2 separate regions of the Homo sapiens genome follow, and region 1 is linked to region 2. A link means that fine-mapping ties the variant in region 2 to the expression of a gene that starts in the linked region. Tissue or cell type: whole blood. Region 2 holds a variant in brackets; the other region holds the start of a gene. All regions are shown on one strand. Distances are from middle to middle.

What was found. PIP is the estimated chance that this variant, and not a neighbour inherited with it, causes the effect.
Region 1: GALNT2 starts here. The variant in region 2 is fine-mapped to the expression of GALNT2 in whole blood (TOPMed, PIP above 0.99).

The regions. Positions count from the first base shown.
Region 1 is chr1:230,063,055-230,071,144 of GRCh38, reverse strand. GALNT2 (polypeptide N-acetylgalactosaminyltransferase 2) reads right to left here and starts at 3,907. Exons shown (of 16, transcript NM_004481.5): 1 at 3,739-3,907. The coding sequence starts at 3,864. RefSeq lists enhancers at 2,098-2,177, 4,532-4,691 and silencers at 3,092-3,151, 3,592-4,401.
Region 2 is chr1:230,249,345-230,257,447 of GRCh38, reverse strand. GALNT2 (polypeptide N-acetylgalactosaminyltransferase 2) reads right to left here. Exons shown (of 16, transcript NM_004481.5): 10 at 6,888-6,991; 11 at 2,104-2,230. Among named protein-coding and RNA genes, the nearest start is that of PGBD5, 170 kb to the left of the region's middle. RefSeq lists enhancers at 1,673-2,173, 2,174-2,674, 4,783-5,443, 5,444-6,105. The variant G/A (reference allele first, on the strand shown) is at 3,095.

The sequences.
Region 1 (8,090 bases), 190 kb after region 2:
CCTGGTTCACTACACTTTCAAGGGGATATTTAGGCTTTTATTTTTTCATTTTCCTCTTTTAGAGATAGCAGTTATTCAGCACCCACTAACAGTATTTAACTCTCCGAACAAGGCCATGAGGTAAGAATGATTACTCCCACTGCAAAGATGAGGAAACTGAGGGTCAGAGAGGTTCAATGCATCAGTGAAGGTCACTAAGCACAAAGAGGTAAACAGCTAGGTCTCACTCAATGCCAATAAGTGGATTTGTGCCATTTCCCTTTAATGTCTACTACTAGCTCAAAAACATTACTAGTTCCCAAATGGTTCAGCTTGGCATTTGAAGCCCGTTACAATTTAGTTCTGAATTTCTCCAACTTTACACCCTAACGTTCCCCTCCATGTGTACCATGGTCTAGCCCGGCAAGGTCCTTCACTGTTCCAAGAAATAACCTGCCCGCCTCCCCGCATGATTCCTAGAAGATCCCACCCAAAGTCCCCCACCCTTGGACTCTCGGGCAAGGGCCACAGGACTCGTGCCAGCTCAGGGAATAAGGGTGATGCTACTGTGCAAAGTGGACAGGCTCCCAGGGCTCCGGATCATGTCCCTCAACTAACACCGTCCCTTACCTCCCAGCATGCAGGCACACAGGCAAGGGGTCTCAGGCTCCACACACTCTTACAGCAGAGAGAAAACCCTTCCCTTTCCACCCTAAACAGCCACACTTCACCCACAGGCAGCTTCATTTCCAGAGAAATCCCTTCCTCTCTTCTGCGGCTCCATCCACTGCCAACGTACCAAAGCCCAGGGGAGACTTAACATGGTTAAAATTTTAAAGCATTTAAGAAGCTCAAAGGAAAGGCACGCTTGAAGTGCAAATCATCAATTTAGGGGGAAAGAGCAAAATATGGGGGGAAAGGGTATGGACACAAATGTAAATGAAACATAATTTTAAACAATATTTTGAATAAACTGCTTTAACATACATGTCCTGAGCCTGGGTGTTGAGTCCCGAGTTGTGCGGCAGTGCCTGAGATTGGTCTTCAGCACTCCCTCCTGCTTAGTTTACTAAACCTGCAATCTGAGGTGAGCTGGCTCTCTGGGTTTTGCCAAGTGGAGAATAACAGTTCTGTGATGAGTTACTTAACAGGCAGGGCACACAATGACAAGCCTGGGCTGGGCTGCTGAAGCAGCAGAAATCCTAGTTGGACTCCCCTCAGACGATCCCTAAAGCCCAATACTGCAGCCTAGTACCCTATGAAAAACGTCAGGATGTGCAGAAACTGGCTAAATATGGAATAAAAGCCCTGACTTGAACAGTATGAGGCAAGAGAAAAAATATAGGTCCACTTATCTCTAAAAAAACTATAGCTAGCTTTTAAATTCTGCCTTTCTGTGCATGGCCCGCTATCTTTTTTTATGTCCATACTTTACAAGCCAAACAAACCACATTTTTTTTTTGGTATGAGAATGAAATAAATTTAGAGACACTTCTAGTGTCTAAATCCATGGAAACAATTGGGGAAGAAAGAAGACTACACGATTTTCCTATACATCAGGCATTCGTGACAGCAGGGCTCTATTTACCTCCTTCAGAAACCATCTTAAGGCTTCTCTTTAACCCTGGGTCCACCACACGAAGTTAATGAGTCTTCCACTGCAATTTCAAAAGCTATTGCATTTACACACCTCTTCCTCAACCGACAAATCACTAAAGCATCCTAAGGGGTAGCATTAAATTTTATGGTTCGTTGACAGAAAGAATAGAATCCCAAATCACCAATCCATGTGTAATTAATTGTTCATTTCCCCCACTTTTTCTACCTGGTCTCCGTACCTGTCTATATTGCCACCAGGAATTCTTTAAAAAAAACAAAACAAAACAAAACAAAACAAAAAAAAACAAACTAAGAATCACACACTTCAGGAGTGTCTGAAGACTTCTGCATGGAAGACCCCTCACACCATCCAGGAACTGAAGCCCACCAGAGTGAGGAATCAGCCTCCGGGAGGCGAACGAGCACGCTTGCTCTTTCTAATCACGTGTACTAATGAAAGTGGCAGACTAAGGAAAGAGAAACGCCAAGGGTGGCTTATGTGTTTGGTTTTCTTTGCATGAAAGGCAGAAAGCTTTGCCAGGTCTCACCAGCACACCAGGCTATGCAGAGTGGCCAAGGCACAGTTTACCGGGAAGCAAAGTTTTAAAAATCATTCCAGTTTTACACGATTATATCTCTGAATGGACTGCACGGCTTTTGCTGCCTGCATGCTCTTTGCTGTTCAAGAATAAACCAAGTCTTCGCGTACATATACTACCTATACCATTTTTTACAAAAACAACGCTAAGAGTACAATGTCAGCTCAGAAGCTAGGCCGATTCAGCACGTGGAAAGAGGGCTTTATTTCTGCCCTTCTAGATAAAACAAATCCACGTAATTTACCAGAAACCACATAAGGCACCCATTCCACCTAACATCTTCGGCTATGAATGAATGAATGAAGCAAAGAAAAAACCTCTGAAGCAGCCAAACCCCGGCGTGGACATTTAGGGGTCTGACTTCAGAACTGAAGTCTGTTCATCTAGTTAGTTCCCTCTGGCTTGTTTCAGGATACCACTCTCTTGTTCCAACCCAACCACCCGTAGTCCATCTCCATTAACTCAGAATTTTCTGGGTTTGCGGTGACACTAAATGTCACAGTAACGAGGGTTACAGGAATTCGGAAAAGATAACGCTGCTTTCAAAGCCGAGGAGCCAGTAAAACACTACAAACGTCCCCTGCCGGCATGCTCCAGCACACAGCCCGACGCCCTGCTCTCCCGGCCGGCGCTCGGCCGCAGGACCGCGCTGTCCCGGCTCCTCTCGGCGCTCACCATCCTCCCGAATGCCCAGGGCCCGGCCGTCCGGAGCGGCGGCACGAGGACGCGGAACCGCAGAGCGGCTCACACGGTCCCCACAGCCAGATCACTCGGCCCCTGGAGCATGTTAAAAACACAGCCACAGAAGAGGGATTCTCCCTGAAGCGGGGAGTGGGGATGGAAAATGCAAGCGCAGGAGGCCACGTCCGGCTCGCGCGGGAGGGCCGGGGGCCGGGTTGGGCAGAGGGTAACGCTGGGGCCGCAAGGGAACGGCCGGGACTGGCCTCGCTCGGGGCGCAGGGGCGCACTGGCCCCTGGCTCGCACGGGCCCTGGGGCTTTACTTGGCACGGGAGCGGCCGCCCCTGCCCCCCAAAGGTAAAGGGCAAAGAAGGTGGCAGAAACACGGAACCCACGCCCCGCGGAGTGACAGGGGGAAAGGGACGAGGATTTGCAGCCGCTGGTATCAAAGGGCTGAAAAGAAACTTGGACTCCTCTCTCCTGCTGTACATGACGCGTTGGAAAAGCGGTCGCCTCTCTCTCCTCTCCTCCCCACCCCCTTTGTGTTTCCCAACACCCCCATCCCTAAACTTCCAACCGCAGGGGATGGGGCTCCCGGCGGCCGGACAAGACTCGAATTACGACGAGCAGAGAGAGGGGCGACGTCCACGAGAGGGGGCAGAGAAAGGCTGCGGGGGCCGCCCTTTCGGAGCCCGGCGTGCGCAGAGGGGCCGGGTGCACCCCTGCCCTGGGCACTCGGCGCGGAGGCCCGGGACGAGGGCGGGCGACGCGAGCGGAGGTCCGGGCGGAGGAGCGCAGGGGCGGCGCGGAGAGGGCAGGGGACAGGGGCGCAGGGTGGGGGGTGGGCGCAGGGGCCCGGCCGCGGCAGGGCGCTCCACTCACCTTCCTGCCGGCGCCGCCGCCCGCGCCCCCGGCCAGCGCAGAGCCGCCCCCCGAGTACATGTAGTAGGCGATGCCCAGCACCCACAGGAAGGCGAAGCAGAGCAGCATCCGCGAGCGCCGCCGCATTCTCCCAACTCGGCCGCCGGCGGGGCCGCCGCTGCTCGCGAGTGCTGCCTGGGCCGGCCGCGGGCGCGGTGGGGGCCGGGGGAGGAGCGGAGGAAGGGGAAGGGCGCGGCGGCGGCTCCTCCTCCCGCGCGGTGCTACTGCTCGGCGGCGGCGCGCACTCGGCGCCCGAGCTCCGCCCCGGGCCGGCGGCGCCGCGCGGCACCAGAGCAGGAAGCAGCGGCCTCGGAGGCGGCGAGGGGGGTCAGGGAGCAAAGGGCGACCAATCGGCGGCGGCTGCGGGGGCCGGGGCGCGGGCCGCGGGAGGGGACTGCCGCGTCTCCATGGCTGCAGCACGCCGGGCTCCGCCGTGAGGGCCTGGGCGCCGCCCCGCCCCCGGCCGCCCGCCCCTCAGCGTGCTCCCCCCGCCGGCCGCCCCCTCCCCCGTGAGTGACAGGTGGCTGCCCCGGGACCCGACTGGAGCGCGCGCACACGTGGGCAAAGAGCCTTGCTCACGCACACGGGGCCTCTCGATTACGGGGGCGGTAGTGGCCTCGGTGCTTCCTGCCCAGACTGTCACCTCTTCAGCCTTGGTCTTTGGGGCCACCTCAGACCCTTAACGGGCTTGCTCTTATTGGCCAACTGACCTGAGTTTTTGGTGCAAACCGCCCGCTTGAACCCGACTTTGCTGCTGCTTGCTGCAGTTTTCTCACTAATCTTGCAGCAAAACATTCCTGACCCGCTGGTATCGATTTTATTTATCTATATAGGCAGATGTGGAGGTTTTGAGTTGGTAGGAACTGAGAAGGTAATTTTCAAAAGAACATTTTTCTGTGGGTGACAGAGCTATCAATGGTAGAGTTGTTCTTTTCAATAAACACAAAATGAGGAAGAAGGAAAGCAATAATATATTGTTTAAAATCTTTTCTTTCTCATTCGTTGCGTTCTTTAAAAAGCACATTAAGCATCTTTAACGATACAAGAAAACGATCTGTCTTGTAACATAATCTATGTAACCTTGGTGATGCCCTTGCAACACGCAAAGCTTCCAGTGTTCCTAAGAAAGACAGAAATTTTACTTAGAACTTGATATATTAAATGTTTTCAGGAGCTTCTCGGTCAGAGGATAATGGCAGCTGCCTGATATAAGTCCGTACCCATATCCTCAACGAAACAAAAACAAGCCTTCAGCATTACTTAGAGAGAATGCCATGAACTGAACATTAAATTACTTAAGTAGAAGAAAGAAAAGATACCAAATTCCAACTGAGCTCCCTCCACTATTGCCAAGGACTTAAGTGAAGTACAGGGTTGTCACCTCTTTATAAATAGAAAGTCCAACACCAAGAACTAAAAACTGAACAGAGGTCAGGTGCCTTATTGATCAAGGGAAGAGATTTGAAAGAAAATGGGACAAGAGGTGAGAGGCTTGAAGGAGCCTTGTTTCTGGGAAAAAGTCAGATAAATACGAAAAGAAGATAATGTCCTTCAGAGGCCTGACAATGAAGGGAAAGAAGGAAGTCAGAAGGGAAAATTACAAATCCTGCAGAAATGAAAGAGAAGACAGCCAGTCCCCTCCCCAAACACCAACATTATCTATTAAAAACTGCATTTCAGTACACAGATAAAAGAAAACACTCTTGAACCGGGAACCCTGCCTCAAAATGCCTAGTAACAGAAAAACATCAAATCAACTGCATTTAAAGATTCTGCAAAAAGAAAACAGAAATCACATTTCTGATGATAAAAAATAAATCATAACATTTTCGCTGATGAAAACCCCCACAATAAAAACCATGAAGCATAAGAAAATTGTAATACCACATGTCAAACTGAACAAAGTGTCACGTATTTGTATACACATACACACACACACACATATCTAGGATAAGAAATTTCAAGAACTGAAGACAGACTAGACAAAAATTAGGAAGAAATGCAACAAGGGTTGAGCAAATTCAAGAAGGAAATTGAAAGTAATGACAAAAACTATCCCAGAAACAAAGAATAATTACAAGGTGTCCAAGGGAAAATATATTCAAATGAAAATATGTAAAAGGACACTGAAGAATGGCAAGAAAACAATCAAGAAATTGAAAATAATATAAAGATAGAAGTAAAAAGGTTCAGAGAGAAGAGGTTAAAATAAAAGCCAGGAAAGGAAGACCAAAATACATGTTAAGTGGAGTCCCTAAAGTACAAACATTAAACAATAAAACCTAATTAATATTAAAACTATAACCCCAGAAAATAATCCAGGAATAAGGGAAAATTTAAATGTACATGTCAAAAGTGACTTCCATGTACCTTGGGAAATGATCTGGAATTATCAACTCCTAAATATATTTTAGTAAAACGATTAGATTTTAAAGGCAAAAAAGATCAAATTGCTTATAGAGATAAAAATTTATGCTGGCATCAGACTTCTGAACAGCAACATGCAAAGCCAGGCAACAGTGGAGCAGCATTAACAAGGAACAAAAGTGCCAGGCAGGCTGGGCATAGTGGCTCATGCCTGTAATCCCAGCACTTTGGGAGGCCAGAGTGGGTGGATCACCTGAGGTCAGGAGTTCAAGACCAGCCTGGCCAAAGTGGTGAAACCCCATCACTAAAAAAAATATGAAACTTAGCCGGCAGGTGCCTGTAATCGCAGCTACTCGAGAGGCTGAGGTGGAAGAATCATTTGAACCCGGGAGGCAGAGGTTGCAGTGAGCTGAGATCATGCCATTGCACTCCAGCCTGGGTGACAGAGCGAGACTCCATGACACACACACAAAAAAGTACCAGGCAGTGATTTTTATACCCAGCCCTCAAGTGTCAAGGTTGTAGGCAAACAGATATGACCTGAATGCAAAAATTCAGAGAACGTGACTCACATGGGCCTTTCATGAGGAATCTTAGAGAATGAGCTTCCTCCAACCAAGAGACAGCTGAGGAAGCCAGCAGAGTGACTAATGGAGAGCATTTTGTATATTCAGAAGGTGAAAGACTAGTGTATATACATTATACTTTCTGATAAACTTAGAACAGGTGCAACTAAAGACAACTGGAGGAGAAGGGGAAGAGCGAAGGGAAAATAGAATAATATCATTGTCTGCAATATCAGTAGCAGGTAGTAGTGAAAGGATACCATATAAAACAGACAGACCAGATGTTAAAAGGTTAGAAACAAAATATAGGAATTAAGGGTAATATATTAAAAATATAAATAAAAATCACTACAACAAAATATATGTATTCCCAAATATTGGAAACCCTATTCCAAAACCCCAAAAGTTCTAAAAATAGCAAAGAATACATACCAAATAATGAAAGAAACACAGTAAGTGTGGCACAGTGATGCAGTAGTTATAATAGGAAACAATATGACACAGCTGAGACCAACCCACATCAGATATAACAATTTATAAGTGGGCTCAGTTCACCCTTTAAAATAAAAGATTTTCAAATGTAGGCATAACGGAAACCCCAACTCTGAAAAAGCAGGTGCTGTGATTCTGATATCAAACAAAACAGAGTAGGCCAAAAAGCATTAAATGAGATGAAGAGGGACAATTTATAGCCCAAAACTTCCCTTCCTAAACACTTATCAATTGTATATCATTAGGATTTGATCTGCAAAGTAAAATCATTATTAGTTTGATGGAATAAGCGATGTATGATAGAGATTAAACTTTAGACAATGTTAGAGGTAGAAGAAAAAAGGTTATGGAAGTCTTTCCATTGTACATGGGGCAGGTCTGAAGTCACTGTAGTTTCTAGACCTGGGAATCAGAAGAATAGCTAGATGTGACATGGGGCATTTCAAAGACAAAGTCAAAACTGCAAGGACAAAATGTACCTCATGAGAACAACTAGAATTCATGAGGACAAACTGTAATGTACCTCCAGTGTTGATTATGGAAATAAAAAACAAAACACAACAAAAACCCACAGTGAGATACCACTTCATATCCATTAGGATAGCTATTATATAAAATTTTTTTTTTTTTTTTTGGTGGACACTTGCTCTGTCGCCGAGGCTAAAGTGCAGTGGCACAATCTCGGCTCACTGCAACCTCCACCTCCTGGGGTCAAGCCATTCTCCTGCCTCAGACTCCTAAGCAGCTGGGCCTACAGGCATGTACCACCATGCCCTGCTAATTTTTGTATTTCTAGTAGAGACAGGGTTTCACCATATTGGCCAGGCTGGTCGCAAACTCCTGACCTCATGATCCACCTGCCTCAGCCTCCCAAAGTGCTGGGATTAC
Region 2 (8,103 bases):
AAAGGTAGAGTAAACACACGGTATTATAATCTTATGGGACTACTGTCACCGACCGAAACGCTGTTACAGGTGCATGACTGTATCACATCTCTGGCCTGGGCTACTGCAACAGTGCTCACAGGACCCTTGCTTCTGGCTCCAAGAGTGGAGGGGGCACTCGTACCATTGTTTCACCATAGGGTCACCACCTGGCCACCCTCTGCCCAGCAACCATACGGACCTTTCCAAAGCATAAAACAGACATCAGGCACTGCTGAAAAGCCCCAGTGTTTTCCTTCAGAATCAAATAACATCCAACGTTTCCCATGACCTGCAAAGGTGCATGGCCCGGGCCTGTCTAGCTCTTCTGCCCCTGTGCACTGTCCCCTTACTCTCTAGGTTCCAGCTACCCTTGGCTTCCATTTGGCTGATATGCCAAACGCACCTCAGCAGCCTGGATCTGCTCCTCCTGCAGGTAGTCTGATTCCTCGGGGTCCCAGAGGGACCTCCTCCCACCTTTCAAGTCTGAACTCACATAACACCTCCTCAAAGGTTCTCTTGACCATGAAAACCTCTCCTACTGCTTGTCCTAATCATGCCCGACCACATGACTGCATCTTACCTTCTTCACAGCATTGATTACTATTTGAAAATACCTTATTTAGCTGTGTGTTTTGCTGTCTACACTCAAGAGAAGGCAATCTCCCTGAGATCTGGCTTGTACGCTGTTCTATCTTTAGCATGTAAGAGAATTCCCTAGAAGGACACTTGGCTTGATAGAACGGCTATTTGCTATTTTACTTTCGGAAAGCCCTTCCGTTGGCATCTTCATGTTTACTAAAATATATCTACTCTCCATCAAGAATCGTGACTCTGTGTCACGATGTCTTGTGGTATACACAATTAGTACAGCTTGACTTTAATATTTGCTATGGTTTGAATGTTTGTTCCCTCCAAAACTCATGTTAAACTTTAATTGCCATTATAACAGTATTAAGAGGTGAGGCTTTTTTTTTTTTTTTTGAGACAGAGTCTCGCTCTGTTGCCCAGGTTGGAGTGCAGAGGCACGATCTTGGCCCACTGCAAACTCCACCTCCCGAGTTCAAGCGATTTTCCTGCCTCAGCCTCCCGAGTAGCTGGGATTATAGGCGCCTGCCACTATGCCCGGTTAATTTTTGTATTTTTAGTAGAGATGCGGTTTCCATGTTGGCCAGGCTGGTCTCAAACTCCTGATCTGCCCAAACTCAGGTGATCTGCCCATCTCGGCCTCCCGCAACGCTGGGATTACAGACATGAGCCACCATGCCCAGCCGAGGTGAGGCCTTTAAGAGGTGACCTTTAAGAAGTGACTATGCCATGAGGGCTCCACTCTCATGGGGGGGATTGATGCTATTATAAAAGGGAGAATTTGGCCCCCTCTTGCTCTTTCCTGCCCTCTCTTTGCCCTCCCACCATGTGATGACACATCAAGAAGACCCTCGCCAGACACCAGCACCTTGATCTTGGACTTCTCAGCCTCCAGAACTATGAGTAGATAAATTTCTGTTCATTTTAAATTACCCAGTCTGTGGTATTTGGTTAGAGACGCATAAAATGGACTAAGACAATGTTGCTTTTAATTGCACCTTGAATGGTTATAAAATGAACTTTCTTCTTTAAAAAATTTTCCCATAACATTTTGGGGGGTGGTGTACAGTTCTAAGAGCCTTCACACTCATGAAGATTTGTCCAACTACCACCACAACCAGGAGACAGAACAGCTCCGTCCCTCCTCCAAACATCCCTGGTGCTGCCCCTCTGCAGTCACACTCCCCGCTTTCCTGCCATCACAGCTCCTGGCCACCACTGGTCTGGCCCCATCCCTAAAGCTGTGTTTTTATGAGGCTGTGACATGAGTGGAATCATGTATGTAACTGCTTCTCTCACTCAGCATCATGCCCTGGAAAGGCGCCCAGGTTGTATCCTGCATCCGTGGAATGCGCCTTTCAATTGCTAAGTGGTATTCCATTGTATAAATGCACCACACCCACTGAAGGACATCTGTCCTCAAACAGCCCAAGGTCAGGTCCTGCTTTCAGGGTAGTCATCAATGTTTTGGACCCCGCTCAGCCTTTCACTACTTACCGGGCAAAGACAGTGCCACTGCCACCCGGGAACGTGTAGGGGTGCTGCTTCCGGAACACGTGTCCCACACGGCTGCACGGGATGATCTCCAGGCTGCCACCACACTGCCACACGCGGAACGAGATCTCTGAGACGATGAACAAGACACAGGTGACTGACAGAGCCTGGGACGCACCTCTGCAACAGCAGACACACCAAGCAGGTACAGAGGCCCCCTGACCATCCCATCATGGGGCTCCCATGCCCTCTGCTGCTGAAGGAGATCTGATAAGGACCTTCCTCCTTCCAGAACCTGATGCAGAACTCTCTAAAGGAGAGACATTTGACACACTTGGATCTCTGGACCACAATACAATCAAGAAAAAATGTTCACGGGGAAATATTTTTCAGATGTGGAGTAGACACCTTGAGACAAGAATGCTTCTTGGTCTACTGTAAATATAAAGGCCTCTTGGCATAAGATCATGTATACCCCAGTATCATCGTAACTACTGAGTGACAAAACACTTGTGCTGAATTCTTCACTAGCTGGCTCACGATCATTTGCACTTGCTTCGTATCAACACCGTGGGAAAAGGCAACACTGAAGGTATATAAATATGTACAATTAAGCTTTATTGTTACATATTCTAGACAACCATATATGCCATCTTTCTCTAAAACTTATTTTTAACAGACTGAACCCCAGGATGCATCTTGGCTTTTCTCATCCAGGGAAAAATAATCCCTTCCCTCAAATGGAAAAGTTTATTAAATACAAGTCCCTGTGTATTAGCAGGCTCAAGTCTCCAGGCAGAGTTTGGACTTACGGACTATGGACTTAGGGACTGCCTTATGGACTATGGTAGTGACCAAGGACAGTCAAGTAACTGATTGATATCTGCACGCTGCTCACAGGCTTGGACCAGTCAGTAACCAGCTGGCCCAGGTAGGAATGCTCCCTGGGGAAGGCTGCTGTTGACTTGCTTCAACACAGAACTGACCGGCAGGA[G/A]GAATGAGATGTGTAGGTCTAGGCACTACCCACACCTACTTAAACACACAGACTGCCCTGAGCATTGGAACTCAGTCGAAGCTTAGACTGACTGGTGTGCCTTTTGTGACACACAGGTACCTTCCAACCAGGTACCTGCCCTTATCACCACTGACTAGGTGAGTGACTGGAGTCTGAGTCAGGGGTCCGACTGAATGCAAGAAACAGATTCAACAAAAAAACTAAGAATTTTCTGAAAGGCAAAAAACAGTTTTTCTTTACCAGGTTTGTATAATACAAAAGGGAATTTTCCTCTGTATTATCTAAGATCCCTAAGAACATGTTAGGGAGGCAGGACAAAAATCAACAGTTACTGTGAATGACAGGACTTCATTTTTTTTTTCTGGCTGGATAGTATTCCCAGGAAATTAAGTGAAGTAAGAACAGAAAGTTGAATACCATGTTTTCACCCATACATGGAAGCTAAAAAACACTGATCTCATAGAAGTAAAAAGTATAACGGAGGATAGTAAAGGCTGGGAAGGAAGGAGTAGGGATTTTTTCAAGGATACAAAATTATAGCTAGAGAAGAGGGATCTTGCTTGTGTTCTACAGCCCGGTAGGGTGACTCTAGGGACCCATAATATATACAGAGTTTCAAATAACCAGGAGGAGGATACTGAATGTTCCCAACACAAAAACATGCTACATGTTTGAGATGATGGATATGCTAATTTCCTTGATCTGATCACCATACATTATATGTATTAAAAACATCACTATGTATCCCATGAATATGCACAATTATTATCTGTCAATTAACAAATTAAAAGAAGTAAAAATATACACATATAGTATCTACAGAGTGTGCAGTCACTGTCACCAATGCAGATTGATCAGAAATAGGGTGGGTCCATCACAGACCATACAGTGAGTTGATGGCAAATCCTGCAGGCAGTCAACCTAGTTATGGCAACAGGTGCCCAGAATGCCAGGCACATGGCAGGAAATACAACACAGGGGTCAGAACACCATGAGTTTCTACTTGGGTCCAGCAAACTAATGCCTCACTCACTAGGAATGGGTGATCCATGCAGCTGTTACGGGGCTTTAATAAGCAACTCTCTTGTACTAATAGAAAATGTATGGTTACAATCACATAAGCATAAGCAGTGAAAGTTTCCGACTTTACTTTTTACAGTTCCCAACACAACCTAAGAAGTTGTCGGCTGGGCGCAGTGGCTCATGCCTGTAATCCCAACACTTTGGGAGGCCGAGGCAGGCGGATCACCTGAGGTTGGGAGTTTGAGACCAGCCTGACCAACATGGAGAAACCCTGTCTCTACTAAAAATACAAAAAATTAGCCGGGCACGGTGGCACATGCCTGTAATCCCAGTTACTTGGGAGGCTGAGGCAGGAGAATCACTTGAACCCGGGAGGCGAACGTTGCGGTGAGCCAAGAATGTGCCACTGGACTCCAGCCTGGTGACAGAGCGAGACTCCATCTCAAAAAAAAAAAAAAAAAAAAAAGAAGTTGTCTCTATTTCAGAAAATAAAATTTAAATATCCATTTGCCTCACCACAAGATTTAGAATTAGGGGCTAGGAAATCCCCTTGGCTTCTCTATGGGGAATCTGTTAAGCCAACAAGGGATCCTTCCAGGGCTTTTGTGGGAGATTTTCAAGGCTAAGTATAACTACAGTATCTTCAGCGTTGATTTCATTTGAACCCTATAACTTTGAGGATAATTACTCAGTAAAACTCAATGGCTTTTTAATTAGGCAGTTAGTGTTTACATCTTGGTTCTGAGACCCTGGGCAAGGTGTCATGACCTCTGCAGACCACACTCCGTTAAGAAAGCACAAACAGATGATTCCCTGGAAGTACTTAGCATCATCCTTGCATGACAGGGATGTAGAGAAACACAGATGATGCCCCCAAGGAGCCTTACCCCCATTGTTAGAGTTAAGGGTTAGGTTCTTGGTCCTCCATTTTAATTGCTTAAATGACATAAGGACTTACATGATTAGGAAAATGGGAAGCTCTGGTCATTCCAGCGGGGCACACGTTGAGGAGGTGGTTTTGGATCTTACTCGGGCCTCTCTGCACCATACACCTCTCCCAATGCACACCCACAGAGGCCCCTCAGGTTGGCAATGGCTAGTAGTGTGCACGGCCCCCAGAAGCAGAAGCTAGAGCAGTGCTAAGGAGAAAGGCTCACGGCATGGCCTTCTCACGTGAAGCTCTTGAGCCCTCCAAACCTCACTGGGAGTCCAAGTCCTTGGCATAACCCAGGAGAGCCCCTCACGGAGGGACAGATGCCCCAGCCTTCCTGGGCAGAGATGTGCTCCTGCTTGCAGGGTTCATCTTCACCCCAACCTGAACCGCTCAGACCCTAGAACCTTCTAGCACAGCTACATAATAAATACAAACACCAAACCACAATAAAGCAGCTCCTTACAACAAATCTACCCCCCAGTCTCTGGGTGAATGCCTCCTTAGATATGTAAATCAACACTCTTCCTACACGATGACACAAAATGCTGGCTGATGTCTCATTTCAGCTAATAGTATGCAAACTTCTGAAAACCACACTGTTTTTGAGAAATGGCCACCTACACGATACGCTGCCCTACTGGGCGACCCTGGCCTGCTGGATTTCCACTAAACCATTAGGGGATACCCATGGAACAGGGTGACAGAACTCTCTTTAGAGGGTTAACAATTCTGAAGCCTTTTGTACTCAAGTGACTTCAATCCAAGCTTTCCCTAGAGGTTAATGTATCATTTTTTTAAAACAACCCAAAAGGAGTTTGACTCACGGTCTCTCCACCCGTGCAGTATAGTAATCGAGCCTAAAGAAGCTTTCAACATCAAACCAAGGCAGAGAAATCCTCAAAGATGAGATGGTATCACTGACTTCAACATCATAAAACAATGGAAAAATAATAGGCTAGGCTAGTCTTTTCTTTTAAAGTAACAAAAACTTTCAAAGTCTCAAAACTATTAAAAATGAGTGGCCTCATTTTCCCCTTTCCTTCTCCCCTGTCCTCCAGGGTACACTCACCCAAGGACGAATGTAAGTTAACAACACTCAGCAGCCCAGGAGAATTCGCTCAGAATGTCAAGCATTTGAAACAAAAGGCTTTAATTGAAACAAGCAAAAAAGATCTCCCCCACTCCAAACCCTAAACAAACAAAACACATCTTTTCATCTTTTATGCAGTAAATATAAGGCTACCAATATAGACCACAATGTGCAAAATTTTGCTGTGCCTAAACCTGGGTAAAAATAATTTGCATGGGGTATTTAAAAACAAAAAAACAAACAAACAGAAAAACAAATGAGAACCATTCGCAAAGGTAGTCGAGAAGGGATTAAGTGCCAAGGCCTCCCTGCCCCATCGGATTTTCATGATTTCAATTCAATCAATCCCACCAGCCTCGCCGGGGTTCATTTTCCACTCTCCACCACTCAGCATGAATCTGAGCTCCTGGACTGTTTCCCTCTGTTTTTGCAAGCCTGCAACATTCCAAACACTTGGGTTCAGACGCCTTGAAAGAGTTTGCATTTCCCTTCAAAGACTTTATCCGTATTCTGGCATCCTCCACTCTAACCTAGGGAGGCACATTTTAATGCCCAACTCATGAGACTTTCAAGAGCAAAAGGGGTGTTACATATGTGTTTGCAAGGATCGATTAAGCCCAGTGAATGGTCACTCTGAAGCCTTTTAAATTTTTTTTCCAATTGGCACCCTGCCTTTTGCAGAGCTGAGGCACTTCTCTGTCCTGAGATTTGAGGCTTGTACATACCTAGGTTCTCTCCTCCCCACACATCCATCATCATGTCGTACTTCCCCAGTTCTTCAAAATAGAACTTATCCATCACAAACAGCCCACCAGCAATCATGGGGGTTCTAAAGAGGCAGAAAGAAGAGGGGGGAGGGAGGAGAGGGCAAAGTCAAGGTTAGATTGCCAGCACCCTTGCGCCAAGGCCAAGCCTTGATTCCCTAACAATAAGCTGATCTTCAGAACAGCCACACTGCCACTGTTTTCTGCTCAGTGCCCAGCATGCCACTCTCTCTGCTTCACCACTGCTGCCTTCAAATGCCTCCCCCACTGTCCCTGCCTGGATGTTCCCACAGTGCCAGGGGCTGGACTGAGCCTCCCCTATGTGGGAGCGACTGCTGGGGCTGGATCACTACTCACTGACATGCTGCCATAGGCAAAGAACTCGGCCTTTCTGTGTGTCAGTTTCCTTATAGGGTAGCTACGAGGATTGCAAAAAATCATGGGCATAAAGCCCTGAGCACGCTTAGGAAATGCTCCACAGCACCAGCTCTCATTATCACTATCATAGATGAGACTCCACCTCCTACAAGGGAACCCACCATGCTCCTCACTTCATCATCCCAGGAAGGGGTTGACAACAGATGTACACTGAGCTCCCTACTTTGTTCCCAGAAGCGATGCTGTGCGAATTCAGTGTAAAGTGCTGGGAAGGTCTATGGCACACTGCAGATGTTGGCTAAATGTCAGCAAATATATTTCAGCGCTAAGTACTCTGTGAATGCTATCTCACTTAACCGTGTGCCAACTTGGAAGAGGTGGCCCCCTTCTCTCCCCAGCTAGAGAAGGCATCCTGACTCTCAACCAGAAAGCCCACCGCCCGGCCTGGGAATCTTAAAAGCATGGGCTTCATGAGCATGGGCTCCTTCCTCTGCAGGAGAGCAAAGGCCTGCTGGGCAGTAGCAGCAGTAAGCCTCCTGCTGCCCACCAAGCCCCTTTTCCTGGGCCTGGGGTCAGCTCGGAGATCCTGCTCTGCTACAGAAACGCTCTACATTATCAACATACAGGAATGCACAGACCTAGCAGATAGGCCTTATAAACCTATGTGAGACTTCAACTGTGGAAAAGAAATCTCCAAGGATTTTATTCTATGACCTGGTGGAAGGTGCTCATCTTTGAGCTGAGACGAGGGGAAACCGGAGGGCAGAAGGTGAACAGCCCCCACTGGGTCTCCAGGCGG